Linked DNA regions of Homo sapiens: all the other regions are reported to be linked to region 1. Evidence: microRNA targets listed by miRTarBase, many of them from high-throughput screens and not tested one by one. Region 1 holds a microRNA gene; each other region holds the end of a gene's coding sequence.

Region 1 (3,000 bases):
CGCTCCATATTGATTCTTAAAGCAAATAAGAAGAAAAAGGAAAAAAAAGCTAAGAATGGTAGGTAAGATAAAAGAATTGTTAAACTTCACCTCTAACCTGAAATCTTGGACCTCGCACACACAAAATCAAGATTTTTTTACACCCTATTCCTCAACAGAAAATATTCTGCAAAGGAGAGAAAATTTCGAAGAGTGGAAAGTAGAGGAAACACAGTAAGTACAGTAAAGAGAAAGGATTCGAAATTCATTTGCCAAGAACAAAAAAAATGAAACTTAAATTGCATAGGAGCTCTTACACACAAATGCATTGGCATTTCCCAAATTAAATTGCATGAGAGCAACAATACAGGCCATTTCTATATAGCACCCACTTACGAGCTCTAATTCCAGAACACACACCGATATGACATAGTGTTGCAATCAATGTATTAGGAGGCAAAGAAAATGGTTGGGCTACTGGACGTCTTCGACCAGCTCATTCAAATACCTTTAAAATTAATTAAGGGGCAGGGAACTAGAGAGAGAGGAAGAAAAAAAAAATGGAAGAATAAAGGCGCACCGAGTAGAAAAGATTAAAGGGAACGTGGAAGGCCGGGGCTGCCGAAACTAACCTGTGCCATCGCTGGCGGACGCCGAGAGGGCCGGAGATGAGAGTTTAGGCCGCTTGGCTGAAGGCGGCCCCGGTTCCACCACATTCTCGGCCATTTTTAATTCTTTCGGAGATACAAGCGAGGAAAACCAGAATCCTCAGGAAATCTCTTCTTCGGCCCGGGGTCCCCGCGCCGCACCCAGGGGTGGGCTGGGGGGCTCCGACGGCACCCGAGGGGGTGGGGGAAGTTCCTTTTTCTCTTCGCCGGGTCGCAGTGGCTGGAGAGGGATGCGGACTCGATAGAAAAGGTAAGGGCAAGTGCGAGGGGCCGGGCCTGGGCCCAAGCCCGGAGGAGGGCACAAGAGCACAAATTCGCCGAGCGCGTCCGCTGCGGCGAATTCCCGAGAACTCGCGGCTCTAGAGGCGCAGTCCCCGGCCCGCCACGGCCGGCCCCTGCCCAGCCGAGGTCTCTCGGAGCTCCGCCGCCGCCATCAACCTCTTCCTCCTCGGCGCTGTCCTCCTCCTTCTCATCGCCACAAGGAGGCGGGGGCGAAAAGGGGGGAGAGGAGGAGGCGACAAGAGACACTCACCTCCTCCCGGTGCCCCCTCCCGGGCCTGCGCCCCCACCCTCCGAACCCTCCTCCTGCCGCCGCGCTCCGCGCCGCCGCCGCCGCACCGGCCCCTAATGGCCGCAGAGAACTCGCCCGAGCCGAGAGCCAGGCTGGCGCCGCCGCCTCACATCGCGCGGCGGCCGGCGGAGGCGCGGCAAGGACGCCGGGAGCGGAGCTGGCCGGACCAGAGGGCCGAGGGGGCCGGGCCGAGCAGCGCCGCCCGCACGCCCGCGCCGACGCGGAGCCCACCGAGGAGGCCCCGCTCCGGCGGCGGCGCAGGCGGCCCCTCCTCGCGCCGCGCTCCCCTCCTTCGCCTTCCTTTCCCGCGGAAAATAAATAAATACGGCCGCTGCTACGGCCCCCACCGCCGGCGGCCAGGTGCTGGGAGCGCCCGCCCCCCGGGGCTCCGTTCGGGGCCGCCCGCGGCGGCGGGAGAAGACGCCGCGGGGCGCGGGGTTATGTAATGGTCCCCCCTAGGCGTCGACGCCGGCCCGGCTGCTGGACCGCGGTGGGGGTGTGTGCGGACGGGAGGGGGCTGGGGGTCGCCTCAGCCCGTGCGCCCCGGGCCCCCTGCCACTGTCTCGGCCCCTGCCGCCTCTCTCCGACCCGACTCCCCTCCGCACTCTCTGGCTCCCGCAGTTAGCACTCAGCCCGGCGTCCTGCTTGCCCACTCTCGCCCGCTCTCTCTCGCCCTCTCTCCCCCCCAGCCTAGCACACAAACAAGATGGCGGCTGTTGTTTCTTCCCTCTGCCGAATCCTCCTTACAGGCTAGCGGTAGCGGCGGCGGCCGGAAATGAGCCAAGGGGGGGTGGAAAAGGGGAGTGGCCGGGCCTCCGGAGGGGGGCGGGGCCTAGGCCCGAGCCGCTCACACAATGGGGGAAGTGGAGCCGGGGGCGGGGCCTGTCCCAATCACGGGATCCGCCCTAGGCCCCAACGCGGTTAGCGCTTCCGCAAACTCCCCCGGCGTCACCCTGTGGCTCCCTTTAAAGGGGAGGATTTTAAGAGTGGGGAGGATTTTAAGGGGGGAGGGGCGGGGGCGGACTCAGAATCTATTTTCAGTCGGTGGATAGTTACGAGGGAAGGTTCCTGCCTTTGGTCTCTGCGTAAGGGACCAGTGGGAACCGGGACGACGGAACCCCGGAGCTGCTCCGAGGAAGGCGCCAAGTCGCCACTCAGGTGGCCAAATGGGAGCGCCCGTAGGGCGGCCCTGCTCTTCGGCCCTTGGGTGGCGGGTCCCCCAAAACCCCGGTCGAATTCACCAGGCAGGGTGTACCCACTGCCGGCTGTTCCGGGCCAGATACCCAGTGCGTCCTCACTTCTCCATTGCCCTCCCAAAGGGAGCAGTTCACATCCAAAAAGCACGTTGATTACGAGTTGTTTTCATTTTCTCTGAATTTTCCTTTTCCTTTTTATGTATTATTTATTTATTTATTTTACAACGAGCATTATTACTCTGACCAGAAAACAAAATCACAGCAGTGGAAAGATGTTTCGGCACCAGACCCAAATTCATTTCTTGCCCTCCACGTGTGTCCATACGCCCTTACCAGGTAGCACTCTCACCGCAGAAGCCTTCAAGTATTTTCCTAAACATGGCTGGGACCTGAAGACATTTCTAGGGTTTGTCTTTTTTTTTTTTCTCGTCCGCTCCCAATAGAACAAGTTAGTAAAAGACCACGTCTAGCCATTGCCTTATCTAATGTAATTATGGGAAAAACAAAAATGTGGTAAAGGTAATGTAAGGATGGAAAAAAGCAAAAATGTAATGGTGAGAGGAAATGCTGGAATATAAAGTCTAGT
Region 2 (4,060 bases), not on the chromosome of region 1:
CTTAGTGAGTCACATAATAAAATGTTTCGGTTAGTCATGGAGTGGCACCCTGGGCACTACTGACAGAGCAAATAATCCTGAACACACATCTACTACCCTTTGCCACAGTGCAAAATGAGATTATGGTGTCAGTACTTCTGATATTCACCTGATGAAACTGTCCTTACATTGATACTTGTTTACATTTAGAAAACAATGGAGCTTAAAAAAAAATAGCACTGAAGTTACAAATGTAAAACATACCCAATACAAAACCTGGTCACTGTGATCACTATAAATTCCAAACGCTTTTCCTCACTCTTATTCTTTTCTTGTAAAGAGGCTATTCCAATCCCCTGCAGTTTCTGTTATCAAAGGCAAGATATACAAGGACAGTAGGTCCTGTCTGTTCTCTTCAACATGGCACATACAGCACCTTGGACAGTGCCTGATACAGGACATTGCTCAATAAATACATCAGCAATGAAGAAAAAAGAAATAAAAGAAAAGCCAGTTTGGGGACTGGAATGAGAGGTAGGAGTGAGGAACAGAAAATAAAACAAATATAATTGAAATAATACTGGGAAAACATCACTCATGTTGTCAAATCAGAAAAAAATTTAAGCTGAGAACAATGCATTATTTTTCTTTAATACTTTACCAAAGGGTGAACAGCCATATCTCAGGCTGTATGCAACATTAAATTCCAAAATAATTTCTAGTAATTTAAAAATAGCATTGAAGAATAATTTTTTGAAGTACAATATTTTGTTTTTTGAGAGGAAGTCTCCCTCTTGTCCTCCAGGCTGGAGTGCAATGGCGCAATCTCAGCTCACTGCAACCTCCGCCTCCCGGGTTCAAGCGATTCTCCTGCCTCAGCCTCCCGAGTAGCTGGGATTACAGACATGCGCCACCATGCCCAGCTGATTTTTGTATTTTAGTAGAGATGGGTTTTCACCATGTTGGCCAGGCTGGTCTTGAACTCCTGACCTCAAGTGGTCTTCCTGCCTCAGCCTCCCAAAGTGCTGAGATTAACAGGCGTGACCCACCGTGCCTGGCCTGAAGTACAATTTTTTAACTTGCTACTATTATGTAAAAAAACACTAAGTTGGAAAAAATTTATATAATGAATTCATTTGGGTAAAAATTTATACATAAAAAATTTCTGCAAGAATGTAAACTATTAATCATTTTCCCTGGGAAGAACTGAGGGGCCTAATGCAGAAAGGGAGCTTTTATTAGTTACTTATATGCTTTTGTACTATTTGAATTTTTTGTTTTTACAATCAATATGTACATTTTATAATAAAACTCATTTAAAGGGAAAATGTCCAGTTTGTATTTGTGAAACACTCAGGTAGAAACTTAGAAATTGCAATCTCTTATAATATATTGATTGTTGATAATATTAAAGTTTGCGTTTTCTGTTTTATAGAGAGCCAGGGTCTTGCTATGTTGCTCAGGCATGAACTCCTGGGCTCAAGCAATCCTCCCGCCTTGGCATCCCAAAGTGCTAGGATTACAGGCATGTACCGCTATGTCTGGCCTGCACCACCATGCCTGGCCTGCACTTGCTATTTATTCTCTCTTTACTAAAATAAGAAAGTGGGAAATTAAATAGATTATGACAAAAGAAAGTGAAATAGACTAGGACAAAAGAAAAATGAAACAATATAGATCAGTCTCCTCCAATTCAGGAAAAAATACTATTACATTCAAGAAACGAAAATTTTCCAAAAGCTCAAATCATAAACAGCTATCTTCTAGTTTCTGTCATATCTTTACTATCATTGAACATGTATTCAAATTTAGGGTTTTAAGGTCTCCACAAAAGATAACTATTATATATTTAGTGCAACCAGGTACAAGACAGGCTCAAAAACAAACAAAACTGAATTGCTCATTCTAATAATAATCTAGAGAATCCTTCCACATAAATTTAAAAAATGATCTCAATAGGGACATCCTAAGTAAAGGAATATCAGAGAATGTTATTACAGGTGGGCTGGCCATAAACTTGTAAAATGTAATTTTTTAGCTCTTTTTTTTTTTTGAGATGGAGTCTAGCTCTGTCACCCAGGCTGAAGTGCAGTGGCGCGACCTCGGGTTCATTGTATCCTCCACCTCCCGCGTTCAAGCAATTCTCCTGCCTCAGCCTCTTGAGTAGCTGGGGCTACAACAGGCATGCGCCACTATGCCTGGCTAATTTTTTATATTTTTAGTAGAGACGGGGTTTCGCCATGTTGGCCAGGCTGGTCTTGAACTCCTGACCTCAAGTGATCTGCCCTCCTCGGCCTCCGAAAAGTGCTGGGATTACAGGCATGAGCCACCATGCCTGGCCACTGGTTATTTTTTACTGTTGACATACTTAATTACAAAATAATAACTTTAAAAGGTATGGTTCTTCAATAATGACACATATATCAGAAGGTAATAATACTAAAAAAAAGATCTGTGAAAAAACTTTCAAAATAAAAAAATTAAATATAATTTTAAAAAATGACGTAGAAAAACTGGATTTATCATGTGTAACATGTTTTGAAATATCTATACATTGTGGAATGGCTCAATATAGCTAATTAACGTGCATTACCTTATGTGCTTTTTTGGAAAAACCACTTAAAATTTACTCAGTGACTTTCAAAATACATTGTTGTTAATTACAGTCACCAAGCTGTACAACAGATCTCTTGAACTCAGTTGCCTTGTCTAACTGAAATTTTGTAAATTTTGACCAATATCTCCTCAATCCTCCACTGCCCCACCAGCCCTTGATAACCACCATTCTATTCTCTCCTTCTATGAGTTCAACTTAAGATTCCACAGTGAGATTATGCAGCATTTGTCTTTCTAAGCCTGGCTTATTTTACTTAACATGTCCTCCAGGTTGTCACAGATGAAAGGATTTCCTTGTTTTTAAGCATTAAATACTGTTCCATCAATACCATTTTTAATATATTTAAATTATATCCATTTTGGAAGTAGTAACAGCATGCTTTGATGGTGGCTCAGTAGAAGACATTGTATCAGAAATCCACAAATTAAGCAACTGTTTCTTATGAAGTGCATCATTTTCCTGGTTGGCCTGTTCATCCAGTGACTTTCTTATACAATTCTTTAATTCTTCGATTCCTTCTCCAGTAACTGCAGATATGGGGATGATATGTTGGAACTCTACAGTCCTCTCTGGAATCATGTTTTTTTCAAATAAATGCAGAAAATCTAAAAGAAAGAGCACAAACAAAGCTGATTTCCATTGTTTTCGAAAGTTAGTTAAAACCATGTTAATGGTTTGATTTGTGAAGCAGGGAACCAACACCAGCATTTTTCATGCCTTTTTTCACCTTTTCTAATAAGTTCTCAGAGCCTTTGGATTTTACCATTGATTATGGTAAGGTTCTTGGCACATAACATACTTGTTAGATAAATATATTTTAAACCAAACTAAGTATGAGTAGAAGATGAATCACAAAAATGACTTACTTAAGGAAGTAATAAATTTTGTGTGTGTGGGGGGGGTTAAATAAGGCAAGGCAGCATTGATTCTCTGAAAGATACTTTCTGTAAAAATAATAACATCATTTATGATTTGAGACATTCTACTTGGCCTCAGTACACTGGAGACCTTTAACTTCCCCAAAGTATAGGTTTATCATCAATGATGCTAGGATCCATACAAAAACTGAAGAGGGATTATAGAGAATTCAAGGGAAGATAATTTCAGATGAGTCCAATCTATCACCCCACAAGGGCTAACAATTGTTATATTACTTTTACCTCTTCCCTGTCACCATGGCATACTGATTGGCTGGGGAGATGGCATACTGATTAGATGGATTAACTGATATGAACTAGAAAGGCTGGACTGAAACAGATTGGTGGAGAAGACAACATGGAGCTTACTTTCTGAGATTCAAAAGCCCCGAAGAAAGTCCAGAGAGGATAACTCAGGATTATCACTAAAGGGCCTATATTTTATTTCACGATAGGTCAGAACAGCTACAGACTCCTGAGTCACCCTCACTTTCGGTATTTCCTCTGAAAATTCCCTTCTCTGCAAGATCAACTAGCAAAAAGAACT
Region 3 (4,060 bases), not on the chromosome of region 1:
AGATGGGGTTTCACCATGTTGGCCAGGCTGGTCTCAAACTCGTAACCTCAAGTGATCTGCCTGACTCGGCCTCCCAAAGTGCTGGGATTACAGGCGTGAGCCACCGCACCCGCCTAATTTTTAAATGTTTTTTGGTGGAGACGGGGTCTCACTCTGTTGGCCAGGCTGGTCTCTAACGCCTGGCCTGGAGTAAGCCTACAGCCTCAGCTTCCCATATCACTGGGATTACAGGTGTGAGCGAGTATACCAGCCACCACACTGCTGTTTACCAGAGACTGGAGACACACGAGCACCTGGCCTGGGCACTGTGGGAGGTGGCTTTGGGGATGGTGCCTTTCTGGGTGGGTCCGGGATGCTCAGGAGTCCCTTTCTCCCTCATCGCCCAGGAGCAGCCAGGGCTTCCTGCATCTGAAGTTCGCGCGGACCCGTGAGAACCAGGTGGTGCTGGGCCAACACAGCGGGCCCTTCCCCAGCGTGCCCGAGCTCGTCCTCCACTACAGTTCACGCCCACTGCCGGTGCAGGGTGCCGAGCATCTGGCTCTGCTGTACCCCGTGGTCACGCAGACCCCCTGACAGTGACCCTCGGCCCCCTTTTGAGTCCTCGGGCCCAGAATCGTATCCCAAAGCCCTCCCATGGCCTAGAAAATAAATAAGTTATTGTTTGTCTTAGTGTCCTTTCTGGGCTACAGAGGGAAGTGGGATCGTTGACTCCCAGCGGGAAAGCCCTAAGCAGCCCTGGAGAGGGGGATAATGGGGTAATTGAAACCCTGGAGGAGGCCAGGCACGGTGGCTCACGCCTGTAATCCCAGCACTTTGGGAGGTTGAGGCAGGCAGATCACCTGAGGTTGGGAGTTCGAGACCATCCTGACCAACACGGAGAAACCGCGTCTCTACTAAAAATACAAAATTAACCGGGCGTGGTGGCGCATGCGTCTAATCCCAGATACTCGGGAGGCTGAGGCAGGAGAATCGTTTGAACCCAGGAGGCGGAGATTGCAGTGGGCTGAGATCGCACCATTACACTCCAGTCTGGGGAACAAGAGTGAAACGCCTCCATCTCAGAACAAACAAACATAAAAAACCCTCGAGGCCTTGAGGGCCAAGCACATCCCCAGCACTTTGTTTTGGGGACAGAGTTGGGATTGGAACCTGAATCTCCCATAGGGAGGGACCAGAACTCAGCAAGAGACAGAGCGTCGTGGAGCAGATTAAAAACCGCACTCCATAGAAACCGACAGATACAAAGATGGAGAAACTGAGGGGGGCCAGGCTCTCGGGCCAGCCCCGCTCCCTCCCCCCGGCAGCAGTGGCTTGATCTGCAGAAAGGACATCTGTCCCCATGGAAACAGCAGAAGTAGGGGAGGGGAGCTGGGCCTAGCTGGTGTCACTTCAAGGTGACAGGCCAGGCAGGCAGGAGACCTGGGGGGCTGGTAAACACCATGAATCTCCTGACCTCCCCTTCTTCTCCCCACCTCCAGGCCTGCCTGGGAGTGATGCCAGCTGCGGGGGGGGTCTTCCATGGCAGGGGACTGTTTGGAAGCCAGAGTACCACTTCTTCCTCCTTGGATTTGTCCCTATAAGGTGGGAGGGGGGCTTTGAGTTGCCACAAAGTCCCTTGGCCACAGTGGGCCTCTCCAGCCACCCCTGAGAGCTCTGGGACCCCAGATGACCCCTTAAGTCTTTTTGGTGCGTGTATGTGACAGGGTCTCACTCTACCACCTAGGCTGGAGGGCAGTGACATAATTAGAGCTCACTGCAACCTCAACCTCCAGGGCTGAAGTGGTCCTCCCCTCTCAGCCTCCCAAATATCTGAGACCAGAGACATCAGCTGCACCATCACGCCCGGCTAAATTTTGTATTTTTCGTAGAGACGGAGTTTCACCATGTTGGCCAGGCTGGTCTCGAACTCCTGACCTCAGGTGATCCGCCCACCTCGGCCTCCCAAAGTGTTGGGATTACAGGCGCAAGCCACCGCGTCTGGCCTTGTTTTTAAATTTTCTGTAGAAATGGAGTCTTCTTGCTCTATTGCCCAGGCTGGTCTCAAACTCTTGGCTTCAAGTGATCCTTCCACCGCAGCCTCCCAAAGTGCTGGGATTAGAGGCGTGAGCCACCGCACCCGATTTCTTCAGATCTTTTTAGCACTCCCAAATCGCCACAAACACCAGCTTTGCTTTTTCTTCACAAGCCTTTATTAGGTTCTTGGGGGAAAGTGGGAGCGAGATCCATCATTACAGAAATGAGGACGGGGTCTCAGGATGGGGCTGACAGGCTCCCAATCCTCCTGCTTTTTGTTTTTTTTGAGACGGAGTCTCACTCTGTCGCCCAGGCTGGAGTGCAGTGGCGCAATCTCGGCTCACTGCAACCTCCGCCTCCCAGGTTCAAGCCAGGCTGGTCTCAAACCCCTGACCTCAAGTGTTCCACCCGCCTCGGCTTCCCAAACTGCTGGGATTACAGGCGTGAGCCACCGTGTCTGGCCTCGATCCCCCCTTTTTTGTGTGTACCTATGGGTGGGGTCCTGTTGAGGTCTCCTGGGATCTCTCACTCCTCTCCCACTTTGGGGAACCCTTTTGGCCTCGGCTGCTGGGTGGGGCTTGGTCTAGGAGAGACCCTGACCATAGAGACGGGGTGGCCGGGCCTGGGGCTGGGGCAGGGTCTCGGGCTGGGGCAGGGTCTTGACGCCAGGTGCGGCTGGCGGGGGGCCGGTTGCGGGAAGGAGGTTGAATAAATGCTCTGGCCCCTCTGGTCCTTCCCCTCTCCAGAGCAGTCCTCACTCTTCTTTGGGGCCCCCCGGGGCCGGTATAGGACGTTGCTGTAGAATGCATTTCCTAGGATGGATGACACAGACCAAGAGGATCACTTAAGAGAGTCCTGCCCTCTCCAGCTGACCTCTGGGGGATCTGTCTCTTTTTTTTTTTTTCTGTGAGACGGAGTCTCACTCTGTCGCCCAGGCTGGAGTGCAGTGGCGCAATCTCGGCTCACTGCAAGCTTCGCCTCCTGGGTTCACGCCATTCTCCTGCCTCAGCCTCCCAACTAGCTGGGACTACAGGCTCCCGCCACCATGCCTGGCTGATTTTTTGTATTTTTAGTAGAGACGGGGTTTCACTGTTAGCCAGGATGGTCTTGATCTCCTGACCTCGTGATCCACCCGCCTCGGCCTCCCAAAGTGCTGGGATTACAGGCGTGAGCCACCGCGCCCGGCCTTTTTTTTTTTTTTTTTGAGACAGTCTTACTCTGTCACCTGGGCTGGAGTGTAGCAGCGGTGCGATCTCAGCTCACTGCAGTCTCCACCTCCCAGGTTCAAGTGATTCTCCTGCCTCAGTCTCCCTAGTAGCTGGGATTACAAGCCCCCGCTACTACGTCTGGCTAATTTTTTGTATTTTTAGCAGAGATGGGGTTTCACCACGTTGGCCAGGCTGGTCTCGAACTCCTGGCCTCGTGATTCGCCCGCCGTGGCCTCCCAAAATGCTGGGATTACATGCATGAGCCACTGCACCCGGCCAATTTTTTTTTTTTTTTAATTTCAAACTGTCTTTTTGTTTGTTTGTTTGTTTTTTGAGACAGGGTCTCTCTCTGTCACCCAGGCTGGAGTACAGTGGGGAAACTATAGCTCACTGCAGCCTCCGCCTCCCAGGTTCAAGCAATCCTCACACCTCAGCCTCCCAAGTAGCTGGGACCACAGGCGTGTGCCACCAAGCCAGGCTAATTTTTTTGTTGTTGTTGAGATGGAGTCTGGCTGTGTCGCCCAGGCTGGAGTGTAGTGAGGCAGTCTGGGCTCACTGCAATCTCTGCCTCCTGGGTTCCAGTGATTCTCCTGCCTCAACCTCCCAAGCAGCTGGGACTACAGGCACAGGCCACCACGCCTGGGTAATGTTTGTATTTTTAGTAGAGACTGGGTTTCACCATGTCGCCCAGGCTGGTCTCAAACTCCTGACCTCAAGTGATCCACCCGCCTCAGCCTCCCAAAGTGCTGGGATGACAGGCATGAGACACCATGCACAGCCTAATTTTTAAATTTTTTTTTTTTTGAGACCGCGTCTTGCTCTGTCACCCAGGCTAGAGT
Region 4 (4,060 bases), not on the chromosome of region 1:
TGTCACCAGACTGGAATACTGGAATGCAGTGGCATGATCTCAGCTCACTGCAACCTCCGCCTCCCAGGTTCAAGCGATTCTCCTGCCTCAGCTTCCCAAGTAGCTGGAACTACAGGTGCGCGCCACCACACCCAGGTAATTTTTGTATTTTTAATAGAGACAGGGTTTCACCATGTTGGCCAGGATGGTCTCAATCTCTTGACCTTGTGATCTGCCCGCCTCAGCCTCCCAAAGTGCTGGGATTACAGGCGTTAAGACACCACGCCCGGCCTATCCTATATCCATTTTCTTATAAGAGAAATTCATTTTAGTTCAGTTTTATTGTACTGGATTTACTGGGTCCAAAAACAAAAAGAAAAAACAGATAACTTCTCCTCTAGGTGTTAAGTAGATTTTTTCCTCATCTTCTTAACTCTTATCATAACAGAAATTAAAGTGCACAAGACCATCAAAAATATGTGATTTGGTTGTACCCTAAATATGGGGCACATGTCCTCAGGACCTCCTGAGGCTATGTCATGGGAAAAAAAATGTTATATATATATATATATATATATATATATATATATATATATATACACACACACATATACAGCCAGTTGTGCTGCCATATTAAAGGTTCAATTCTTTCTACTGTTCCTGAATCTTTGGAAGTTTTTCTTCTTTTTAAATAATTATTAATGAGGCATACATGGTTCTGCAACTGGTGTTCCAAGTAATGCATACATCAGAACAACTTTTACATGAAGAAGGCTGCAAAAAAGTACTGTGTCCAGCCCACCAATATGAACAGTGAAAAAGGGGACAAATCAGGAGTGTGCCATTACTATTTGCCAATAATTATTAGTTGAAGAATTGCATTAGTGATACTTAGATAGTATCTCTTTTTAAAAAATGGGAAACAGCAAGGAGGGGATGGATTGAACATGAAAAACTAGGAGCTGTGACAATAAAGGTCAAGAAATGATCCTGAGACAGAAGCTGATCATAAACACAGGAGCAGCAGCAGCCACTACATCACATTTTGGAGTTTCTAATAATTTTCCTAAATTAAACTTTATGACCAGACAACTAATGGCAAACTGCCAATAAGACAATATATTTTATAGCATTTTAGTCATAGATAAGCATATGCTTTTATGAATCTTAATATTATGGTAGAATACTACATAAGATATAAATACTAAAGTTTTGAAAATAAATGTACTAAATCATAGTTTTAAAATAAAGATTTCCTAGGCCAGGTGTGATGGCTCATGCCTATAATCCCAGCACTTTGGGAGGCCAAGGTGTGCGGATCACCTGAGGTCAGGAGTTTGAGACCAGCCTGGCCAACATGGCAAAAACCTGTCTCTACTAAAAATATACAAATTAGCCAGGTGTGATGGTGCACACCTGTAATCCCAGCTACTCAGGAGGCTGAGGCAGGAGAATCACTTGAGCCTGGGAGGCAGATGTTGCAGTGAGCCAAGATCGTGCCACTGCACTCCAGCCTGGGTGACAGAGCAAGACTCCATCTCAAAAAATAAAAATAAAAAAATAAAGATTTTCTATTTAGAATTTCATTAACTTATACAGTACCTTTTAATCAAAGTACAACACATATGCATATATTTTAAAATTAAGTATAACTTAGCTGTCTTGAACATCTAAATATACCCCAGAAAGTGCTGAGGTTACAGGTATGAGCCACTGCACCCAGCCTACTCCATATCTATTAACGTAAACCAATTCAAATCTTTCTTACAAGTGGATAGGTTATAAAAAGAACTAAATACACATAAGTAATCCAAGACACTACAAATCACACTGAAACACATCTTTTTATTATATACTAAATTTAAAAATACAAATCTTATTAAAAATGCTTATCAAACATTGTATACATAAGTACTGTCAAATACTATTGGGTTTTGACATTATGTACATTTGCTAAGGTTAATTAGAAACAGAACAACGTAATATCACTTTGCTGACACTGAATTTCAGCAGTTAAGTGTTTTAAAATTTGGCAACTATGAAGTAGTGATCTGCACAGGAAGATGTTTGGAGAGGTAAAATAATAAGAAAACAAACGGAATAATGCAGACATTTCTGCAGTAAGTGTTAATAAGTAGATTTCTTCCTCATCCTCTTAACTCATTGTAACAGAAATTAAAGTGCACAAGACCACCAGGAATACCTGATTTGGTGTACCCTAAATATACACTACAGCCGGCTGTGCTGCCATATTGAGGGTTTCAATTCTTTGTACTGTTCCTGAGGTTTTGGAAGTTAATTTTGAATGTGGCTAGCGGAAGGGAGGCCAACACTTTCTAAATTGCACCAAATGGCCTTAAAGTGTAGAAATACCAAAGAAAAAAATATTAATTTGGAAATAGATTCAAGGAAATAATCCCTGTCTACTTTGCCCTAGGAATAAAATTAGAATAAGGACACAGTTTTACCTCTGGAAAATGCTTACTAAAATCTGTTTCAAAAGACCAGACATGTACAGCAAGCACAATACTGTCAGTTATTGTTCACCACTTATATACTGCATCATAAATACCAGGTATAAATACCTGCCGCTAAAGGGTCACTAGAAATACAGGTAGAAGCATGTTATCACTTTACACTAATTTTACTCATTAGGTATAATTTGTAAAAATAGGTCACCACCCCACCATACAATCAAGAAAGAGGAAAAGAAAAGTTGCTATTCTACAAAAGTGCTCCTTTTAGCTTTCAACCCCAATAGCTTAATTTTGGGTAAAACAAGATTGTAAGGTATGGCCATCAGTTCTAAATAAGCTGATGATGCCATATATACATCCTCATATATATATATGTTTAAATTTCAGTTCTGGTTTAACACTAATGTACTAGTACAAACCATTTATAGGAAACATTCTATCGGCCTTATTTACAAACACACAATGAATGACAAAGATATGGAAAATTTTAAAAATTGCAGATAAATGTAGTCATAGTTTACTAAAGATAAGACAAATTTGCATAACTTTTTTTAAAACCAAAGAAAAATGTTTAGAAAGAAACCCCTACCATATACAGAATACCTATTGGTCATCGGACCTAAGAGGCAAATCAACGTAAGGATCGTGATAAAATTTTTATTACTGTTTCTTTTAATAACATATCAATGAGATCTATTTAGAGTACTACCTACAAATACACATTCTCTCATGATTCAGTGAGAATATTAAGTTATTGAATACATTTTTTTACTCTCATGGCACTTACATTTGGTAACACTAATAAGGTAAATTTAGATAACACTTAAATCATGATTATGAATGTTTAATTGAATATTTTCCTTTCTGTAGCTGTGAAATGTAAAGCTTAGATTTGCTTCCATCAGGCCTCTTAAACCAAACTTCATCATGGTTAATTGTTGTAATTACAGCACTAAAAAGAAAAAAAAAAGAATGAATGAATGAATTACAATGTCTCCTCAATTCACTTTAGATTATTACCTATATAAAACCAAAATAAACTGGCCTACAACAGTAGACTCAGGTATATAATTGTCATTTACCAGAATGCTGCATATCAGCAGTACATGCTGCCAAAAATATCACATTCAGCAACACAGCAGATCATCCTTCTTTTCTTAATAGAGTTCGTAAAATTTACTTTCTATTAGAACTATTAAAAGCACATTCTTCCTACTCCATCCCCACCCCACCTCTTTAAAAAAAAAAAAAAAAACTGGAGCTAAAAGCGCTATGTATATGGTATTATACTTGTAACTCATGTCAGTATCTTTCAAATGCTAATCTCTAATTCCTAATGTCAAACCATCTACGGTACTTATACCAATTTTTTTTACACTACTAATCTTTACATAAAAAGATCTATTCTTTAAATAGATTTGTATTTTATTCTTTTTTTAATTATTTATTTTTTGTTTATTTATTTTGAGACAGAGTCTCACTCTGTCGCCGAGGCTGGAATGCAGTGGCGCAATCTCAGTTCACTGCAATCTCCACCTCCCCGGTTCAAGTGATTCTCCTGCCTCAGTCTCCCAAGTAGCTGAGACTACAAGCACGTGCCACCA
Region 5 (4,060 bases), not on the chromosome of region 1:
ACTGTGGCTGGAGAAAAGGGGGAGGGAAGGAAGTGGGGGGCTTTTCGGGCTTTTCCGAGGGTCCAGTGAACTTCTAACAGCCTTGCATCTCCAGGCTGCAGAGGAGGTGATGTGCTATACCAGCCTGCAGCTGCGGCCTCCTCAGGGTCGGATCCCCGGTCCTGGAACCCCCGTCAAGTACTCGGAGGTGGTGCTGGACTCTGAGCCAAAGTCCCAGGCCTCGGGCCCCGAGCCGGAGCTCTATGCCTCAGTATGTGCCCAGACCCGCAGGGCCCGGGCCTCCTTCCCGGATCAGGCCTATGCCAACAGCCAGCCTGCAGCCAGCTGAGATGGAGGGCCTGGCACAGCGGGGCGTGCACTGCCCCAGCCCCCCGTAGCAGGGGCATGACTGTTTCCCAACCAGCACCCAAAGACGGGCGCCATTGCCAAGTCACAGGATGTGATCTACCCCGGACTTCCTATCTGAGCTTCAAGGGAGACATCTCAGGGCAAAGCTTTCGTGATGGAGGAGGCAAAGACAGTAGCCCCCTCCTTATTTCTTTTTTCTATCTGTTCCTCTTAGCCCCCAAACTCCCAGGTTCTCACTTCCTTCTTCTGGAGTTTAACCAGATCCTCCCCACCCCCGCTCCCTCATAGTCTACCCCCACGCCTCAGTGTCTCCTCAGGCACAGGAAGTGGGCGGTGGGGGAGGGGTAAGGGCCTGACAGTGGGTGGGTGGGTATATTCCTCAGGAGTCCACAGACTGGAGTGGACCTGGAACTTAGAGACGGGAGGGACCCGAGCCTGGCTTTTGACCTAAGAACCCTAGCAGGAGAATACAGTCTCCATCCTGCTGTCTCTGTCCTGTCCCCAAGTTTTCAAATAAAACTTTCCAAAAAGTGTTTAGATTTTTACCTAGAAGGCTGAAGACTTGCAAAGGGCCCTGCAGATGGGGGTGTGAGCTTTGCTGTCTGCACGGAGCTCTTTCTGGGGGTGCCTAGCTGGGGATGAGGGGCCAAGAGGGGCTGCGGCATCAACAGTGCAGAGGTGGGCACCGGGGTGGAGGGCCAGAGCCCAGCTCCTCAGCTGCTGTTGCTGCTGCTAGAACACCCCTGGGATCTGCACTCAGAGCCACTGCATTCCCCCTGGGGCTGCAAGCTCACAGTCCTGAGCTACTCTCCCCTTGACCTCTATAACTGCCATCACCTCCACAACCTGCCAGCCTGGTTCCTTCATCAAGTCCTCCAATCTGACCTCCGTCTGTCCGCTATGAGTCCCACCTATACCCCTGTTTTGACATCAGTAGCCTTATCTGCACTTAGTCATCGTATACCCCTAGAGGCCTTCTCCTTACCCCATCACTATGGCAGCGGTCCATCTCCACTCACTCTCTCCCACTCTGGCCTCCCAAAGTGCTGGGATTACAGGCATGAGCCACCGTGCCTGGCCTTCACTCTCTCAGTTGTCACCTGCAGTCTTGGCAACAGTTTTGCTTGTCACCACTTTCATTTTAATCCCCATCTAATTTGTCCTGCCTGTCCACCCATCACCTGCTGATTCTTAACCCCAGCCTCCTACCCCATATAGCATGCTACATCAGCCAGTTGGCACAGAGATTAGGACTCTGGGCTCAGGAGCCGGACTGCCTGCATTCAAATTCCATGTCTACCACTTACCAGCTGTGTGTTCTTGGGCAACTGTGCCTCGGTTTCTGAATCTGTAAGATTGAGAGGATATTAACGGTGTTTACTTCAAAAAAAGGTGGTTGTGAGGCTGAATGAGTTACCATTTGTAAAGCACTTAGACAATAAATGCTCAATAATGCTAGGCATTATTAAAATAAGAGAAATACAGGATCCTCTATGGGAGCTCATAGGTGAAGTGACTTCTAGGTAGAGACATGACACATAGTAGGAATCTGCCAGGAGAAGCGAAGGACAGAAAATGCTCCAAGGCAAAGGGAACCACAGGCAAAGGAGAGGCTTATTCAGAGGACCTGGCAGAAGTGCATTAGGCACAGCGGAGGGTAGAGTGAGATGGGGGCAATGGTAAGATGAGGCTGGAGGGGCAGACAGAGCCAGATCACACTGCGCCCATAAGTCATGCCAAGGAGCTTGGGCTTTATCCTGCAGGGGAGGTGAAAGGGAGTCACTGAAAGTTTTAAGCGAGGGATGAACACAGTGAGTTAAAGGCTCTAACTCCACTGGCTGCTGTGCTGATCTAGTGGTCAGCAGTCTGGAGTCAGGCGGCGCCTTTCAAAGGCTATTGCAAGATTTGAGTGAGAGGGGATGGCGGCAGTAGCGGTAGGGATGCAGAGGAGGGATGGATTACAAAGAGATGTTTAGGGTTTTTTTTTTTTTTAAAGGCCCCACCTATCACATCTTCCAGATTTCTGGTTAGAGCCTGTAACACCCCCCAACCCAAATCCTCATCATCATAATACAGCATAGCTCCAAGTTGGTTTCAGCTCATCACCTTCCTCACCTGGCAATCTCTCTCTCTCTCTCTCTCTCTCTCTCTCTCTCTCTCACAAACACACACACACCCTCCACCCCTTAAGCCCATCTGTGATCCATCTGTCTAGCAAAAGCTCCAACCTGTCAAACCTCTTCTAGGATATTTCAAGGTCTAGACCATCTCCCCAGGGCCTCTGTAGAGGCGGGCCGCGCTTGACAGATCTTTCTGAGGCTTGAGGGGCTGAAGAAAGGAGAAGCTGAGGCTTTCACTTCCAAGCTTCTCTTCTTCCCACTTGGAGTGCCACAGGAAGCCACAGAGGAGGAACCCGTGCGCCTGATTCCTGCCTGGTGGTCCCAATTTGAAAGGGACCACCCTTCCCTTAAGCCCACCCCCCTACAGACCCCACAAATGCCCCTGGGTCCCTGGACCTCTGAGGACCCCACCCTGGGCCTCCCCAGGAGAGGCCCAGGTCGCGGTTAAGGGCAGGTAGCTGGGGATGCGGAGGAGGGAGGGAGGGAGGCTTCGGGGGCGGACACCGGATGCGGGGAACCACCGGCAGCGGGATGTGGGGTTCTGAGGGCTGCGGTGCTTCTGAAGATGGCTCAGCGTCGCGCCAGGTGGACGTGAGAGCTTTACCCTGGAGGAGGCGGGGGTTGGAGTCCCGCCTACCCACTGGGACAAGCCAAGGGGTCAAACGCCCCCAACCCAGCCCGCAGATCTCCTCGAAGCACCCGGTTCTCCTGGCCCGCCCAGACCCACGGCGCTCGCCGCCTTCGCCCGCTTAGGACTGAGTCCGCAGCGCCGCCGCCTGGCGAGGGGCGGAGTTGCCACCACTTCTGCGCAGGCGGGATGCAGCCTGGCCCGCGGCATCCCGGGAGTTGTAGTCTCGACGCTTCGGGGCCACCCCAGGGTCTGGTCCCTGACGACGCGCAGTGAGGGCCCCGCCGCTACCCCAGCAGTCGCCTCCCAAGTTCGCGGAACGCAGCTGACCGGCTCCCTCTGGACTGGGTGACATGACTGCTCCCAAGCAGTCGTTTGTAAACTGAGTTTCTGTAAAACAATTTTATTTTTCATATGTGACTGTAGCGGGGTATGATTTGAACTTTGTTTTCCGTCCCCCAGCCCGGATTCTCTGTCTTCTCCTGTACAGCCGTTCCGTTTTCTTACCTCGTCTCCGTCACCGAGGCCCTCAGCCCTGAACACAAGGACTGGGCAGTTTCCCTATTGATTCCTGAACCTGGAACTTAAGACATCTTCCGAGGGGCCCCCCCTTGCCACACCCTCTAGCTGATCGACTCACAAATACCTGTGATTTCTCTCCCCGTCTCCACCTCCAGGTACTTCCCTAGTGGACTCCTTTCCCTCACCGGCGTAGCATTCCAGCCAGAAGGAGTGCCCGTCCTAGCGCCCCGTTCCCAGGGACAGACCCTCAGGGGGAGCTCCTAGGGCCCCAGCTGTCCCTCCTCTTTCTTAAAGCCTAGCTAGGAGGATAGGGACACATTGAAAACGGAAGAGGGAGGGTCTCCGGGACAGTCAAAGGTTCAACAGCAGGAAGTTCTTTTTTTTTTTCTTTTTTTTTGAGGCGAAGTCTTGCTCCTGTCGCCCAGGCTGGAGTGCAATGGCA
Region 6 (4,060 bases), not on the chromosome of region 1:
AAGGATAAATAAACCCGTAGCAGGAGGGGGTGCAGGATCTATTTTAGGGTAGAGGAGAGGCCTGTTTCAGAACCTTTCAAATTGCAGGGCCTATCCTGGAAGTGTAGAAAAGGGTTTTTAATAGGAGAGGAGCACTATTTCATTATGTTAAAATAATGTTTACAAAGAATTAGTAAGAATGCTGCAAGAAAATGCACATGCTATATAATATAATGTAAATATATACACATACAACTCATTTGATCTCACTTATTGTAAAAATATGCATTCCTAATAATGGCTTATCCTACTGAGTGACTTATTAAATGTCACAACAACGTTTTAAAGTAGGTACTCTTACCTCCATTTTGCAGATAGAGGTTAGGTAATTTTCCCAAGGTCACACAGCTAGTAAAGGACAGAGTTCATATTTGAAACCCAGTCTGTCAGGCTCTATAGCCCCTACTCTTAATCACTATATTATGCAGGGAGAAATCCATCAACATATTGTCTTTGGGTGGTGGTTTATTTTCTTCTTTATTCTCTAGGATTTTCTATTTGGATATACTCTAGGAGTTAAATGATAAACTTTTGAATAGGGAAGAAGGTGGGGTGGTGAAATTTGAAGGCCAAACATATGCTTTCAAACAAAAGAATTCACTCCATTTCCTTTTCCACTTTTCTACATTTTCCAGAAGAACTGATGACCACCCCAATTTTACAGCCCACTGAGGCCCTGTCCCCAGAAGATGGAGCCAGCACAGCACTCATTGCAGGTAATAGACTCTGAGCCAACTCCAAGGGACCTTCTGGATCAAGGGCATCTCTCTCCAGAGGGAGCCTGACCAAATCCATTAATGGGCTCACTCTGGCTTGTAAGTTATATTACACACACACACACACACACACACACACACACACAGCCATAAAAGACTCGGAGGCTTCTGTCAGAGGCACTACCAGTAAATGACAGGTTGGGAGGTGGCCGCAAATAGATATGCATACGGACGTTACACTTGAGTACGTGGGTAGGGACGAGGATATATGTGGTTGGTTGAGTGGGTGAGGAAGAGGGGGAGGATCAGATAAACCACTTCCTGTTAGGATAAGCCATTTCCTGTTCCCTCCTTCCCGTTTCTTTAAGAATCAGGAACTGGTTTGGGAGGCAGTTCAGTTTTGTCAGAAATCAAAAGCATGTGTCCTTAGCTTAAGCACCAGGAGACTCCAGCTATTATGTGCCATGGAAATTGGGGTTGGTGGGGGAACATGGGTTTGGATGGAAGTGGACACTAGTTAATGAAAACAAGAGGATCTTTACGAAAACAGTGACTAAATCAGATGACTCCAGGAACTACTGAGACATCCTCAATCCTGAAACATCTCTACATTTTCCCTCTCCTTTCCAAGTTGTTATCACCGTTGTCTTCCTCACCCTGCTCTCGGTCGTGATCTTGATCTTCTTTTACCTGTACAAGAACAAAGGCAGCTACGTCACCTATGAACCTACAGAAGGTGAGCCCAGTGCCATCGTCCAGATGGAGAGTGACTTGGCCAAGGGCAGCGAGAAAGAGGAATATTTCATCTAATGACTCCCAGGCCCCAAGGAGCTTATTCCTGGCTCCATCGCTAACACGTTGACTGCTTATTATGGGAAAGTTTTCTCTGAAGCCAGGGAGAAGCATTGATTGATGTGGGCAAATCCAAGCTCCAGCCAGGTCGCAGTCCCAAATGCCGACATCACTGACTCCAGGGACCAGGGACATGGAGAAAGCTGTTTATGATATCTTTAACCAGGCCCTCTTACTAGAGCTGGTGTTTGTGACTGGCCAACAAGATGTGGCTATGCCAGGGGACATCTGAGTATGTGCCCAGTCATCTTTTTTCACAGGTTGAAGGGAGAGAAAAGATTTTGAGTTAAGGTCATTGGCTGCTCTACTCTGTCCCCTACCTGGTCACCTAGTGATAGCCCCAGTGGAGATACTGTCCATACAAGGTCTTCCCAGAGGCTGGATACCACAGTAAAAGGCCAGGCCAGGAGGGGTAGGAGACTATGGAGATCTTACCTCCTGATAAATGTGCTACACCCCCTAATCTGAGCCCTTCCTTTCCGTGTTCCCCAACAACCTCATGCTTACGTGATTTTTATTCAAATTAAAAATTTTCATTGCTACAGAAATCAGATTCTCATGTGCAAGAAGTAACTACATTTTGACTTATTTTTGCTTAAACATTTTTGACATTTTCTTTTCCCTATTTAACGCCTTTACATATGTTCTCTTCCAAGCAATAAGAACCCTAGGAAAGTTCTAGAAGTTTGCAGAACTATCTCAGGGATTTGAGACAAAGATGGTGCAGGAAAGCTTGTTCCAGGGGAACATCATTAGAAACATACCCTGGGAGGGCCGGGTTCGGTGGCTCACGCCTGTGATCCCAGCACTTTGGGAGGCCGAGGCAGGCGGATCACAAGGTTAGGAGATCGAGACCATCCTGGCTAACACGGTGAAACCCCGTCTCTACTAAAAATATATAAAAAAAATAGCTGGGCGTGGTGGCGGGCGCCCATAGTCCCAGCTGCTTGGGAGGCTGAGGCAGGAGAATGGCTTGAACCCAGGAGGCGGAGCTTGCAGTGAGCTGAGATTGCACCACTATACTCCAGCCTGGGCAACAGAGTGAGACTCCGTCTCAAAAAAAAAAAAAAAAAAAAAAGTACCCTGGGAGATGAGTTGGTTCAAGCCTCCATCCTGGCAAGGGCCAGAATTTCCCAGAATCCCTTCTACATATATACAGAAGGAACCAGAAAAAATCAACCTACCACCTTTCCCAGTGTATCCTCAGAATCAAGCCAAGAAGCTTCTTGGATTTTAGTCTCAAGATAAGTTGTGTTTAAAAGGCACATTTTGGTATAAATTATTAGCTCATCAGATATTGTTCACTTTGGAATTAAAGCTAGATCTCCTTTGAAGTCTTAATGTATTGCCTCTGTTGTCCAAGCTCAAACCCAACCAAGTTAAGATCAAGAGCTGAGGAATCTGGCTGGGTGCAGTGACTCACTGCCTGTTATCCCAATACTTTGGGAGGCTGAGGCAGACAGATCACTTGAGGTCAGGAGTTTGAGACCAGCGTGGCCAACGCAGTGAAGCCGTCTCTACTAAAAGTACAGAAATGAACCAGGTGTTGTAGCAGGTGCCTGTAATCCCAGCTACTCAGGAGGCTGAGACAGGAGAATCACTTGAACCCGGGAGGTGGAGGTTGCAGTGAGCAGACACTGCCACTGCACTCCAGCCCGGGTGACAGAGGGAGACCCTGTCTCAAAAAATAAATAAAAGAGCTGAGGAATCTATCTTGGCAACCTAGATTCTATGAGTTTTCAGTATTTCTCCACATAGAACATTGGAGAAACTAAAGGTCATCCTCAACGTATACAAATTGCTATACCAGAACCTTTTCTTCAAGCCAAACTTTAGAGCAAGTTAGGAGAATCAATAGTTCCCTCATTTCTAAGTTTAGGTCCGAAATTCCAAAATTTGTAAGAGGTTGGAGTAAAATGATGAAAAGTTGAACATCTGGAATGGAATTCATGAAATGATCAAGTCTTAGGCTTGTACTCCTGCCTTTATTTCAAAGCGTCATCAAAGGAAACAGAGCAGCAGCAGCACCTAGCTGAATTCTAGATGGGATATAAATAAAATATATATAGAAGAAATCTAAAAACAAGCTAAGTAAAGAATCCTTGCAGTGAGGTGTAATGCAACTTCATCACTTTATTCAAATCTTCAAAATAGTCTTTATTCTACATTTTTAGTATAAAAATTCCACAAGTTAAGTGCACCACAGTGTAGAGAGAGACATACAACGCTGAACTTCCATAACAGTCAATGGTACAGTCAAACATCACATGTACAGAACACACAATTTAGATGAACTGAAATTATAAGATAAAATAAAATAAAATCCAATTTCAGAAAACAAAAATCAAAACATTAAGGATCCCTGAAATATTCTTAAACCCTAATGAGATTTCACTGGACTCAAGTCATTTTGTAGTGAGACATTCACAATATGACCCTATTAACCCAGTCTA

What was found. The annotated mature microRNA hsa-miR-1281 reads UCGCCUCCUCCUCUCCC and lies in region 1 at 1,149-1,165, opposite strand. An mRNA with a match to its seed (bases 2 to 7 or 8) in the 3' UTR can be bound and repressed. Matches are read on the target gene's strand: a 7mer-m8 pairs with bases 2 to 8, a 7mer-A1 pairs with bases 2 to 7 and ends in A, and an 8mer does both.
Region 2: the mRNA of GTPBP10 is a reported target of hsa-miR-1281. Seed matches in the 3' UTR shown: 7mer-m8 at 825-831.
Region 3: the mRNA of TMIGD2 is a reported target of hsa-miR-1281. Seed matches in the 3' UTR shown: 7mer-m8 at 2,367-2,373.
Region 4: the mRNA of BRMS1L is a reported target of hsa-miR-1281. The part of its 3' UTR that is shown has no 7-base or 8-base seed match.
Region 5: miRTarBase lists SIT1 as a target of hsa-miR-1281. The part of its 3' UTR that is shown has no 7-base or 8-base seed match.
Region 6: miRTarBase lists SMAGP as a target of hsa-miR-1281. Seed matches in the 3' UTR shown: 7mer-m8 at 2,590-2,596.

Annotation. Positions count from the first base shown.
Region 1 is chr22:41,090,710-41,093,709 of GRCh38, reverse strand. It overlaps MIR1281 (microRNA 1281), which reads right to left and starts at 1,197; the gene lies at 1,144-1,197. It overlaps EP300 (EP300 lysine acetyltransferase), which reads right to left and starts at 1,118. Exons shown (of 31, transcript NM_001429.4): 1 at 612-1,118. The coding sequence starts at 705. RefSeq lists an enhancer at 428-667 and silencers at 778-877, 1,058-1,827, 1,928-2,217.
Region 2 is chr7:90,384,033-90,388,092 of GRCh38, reverse strand. It overlaps GTPBP10 (GTP binding protein 10), which reads right to left. Exons shown (of 10, transcript NM_033107.4): 10 at 1-3,201. The coding sequence ends at 2,939. Among named protein-coding and RNA genes, the nearest start is that of CLDN12, 17 kb to the left of the region's middle.
Region 3 is chr19:4,290,061-4,294,120 of GRCh38, forward strand. TMIGD2 (transmembrane and immunoglobulin domain containing 2) reads right to left here. Exons shown (of 5, transcript NM_001169126.2): 5 at 2,167-2,825. The coding sequence ends at 2,539. SHD (Src homology 2 domain containing transforming protein D) reads left to right here. Exons shown (of 6, transcript NM_020209.4): 6 at 387-662. The coding sequence ends at 573. Among named protein-coding and RNA genes, the nearest start is that of TMIGD2, 10 kb to the right of the region's middle.
Region 4 is chr14:35,869,708-35,873,767 of GRCh38, reverse strand. BRMS1L (BRMS1 like transcriptional repressor) reads right to left here. Exons shown (of 10, transcript NM_032352.4): 10 at 1,805-3,408. The coding sequence ends at 3,291. Among named protein-coding and RNA genes, the nearest start is that of BRMS1L, 45 kb to the right of the region's middle.
Region 5 is chr9:35,646,116-35,650,175 of GRCh38, reverse strand. SIT1 (signaling threshold regulating transmembrane adaptor 1) reads left to right here. Exons shown (of 5, transcript NM_014450.3): 5 at 95-881. The coding sequence ends at 328. It overlaps LOC101926948 (a long non-coding RNA gene), which reads right to left and starts at 3,906. Exons shown (of 2, transcript NR_135130.1): 1 at 3,743-3,906; 2 at 2,700-3,486. It also overlaps a transcript of CD72 not described here. RefSeq lists enhancers at 445-494, 3,355-3,734.
Region 6 is chr12:51,243,446-51,247,505 of GRCh38, reverse strand. It overlaps SMAGP (small cell adhesion glycoprotein), which reads left to right. Exons shown (of 4, transcript NM_001031628.2): 3 at 675-755; 4 at 1,387-2,948. The coding sequence ends at 1,565. It overlaps DAZAP2 (DAZ associated protein 2), which reads right to left. Exons shown (of 4, transcript NM_014764.4): 4 at 3,573-4,060. Among named protein-coding and RNA genes, the nearest start is that of DAZAP2, 6.6 kb to the right of the region's middle. RefSeq lists an enhancer at 1-57.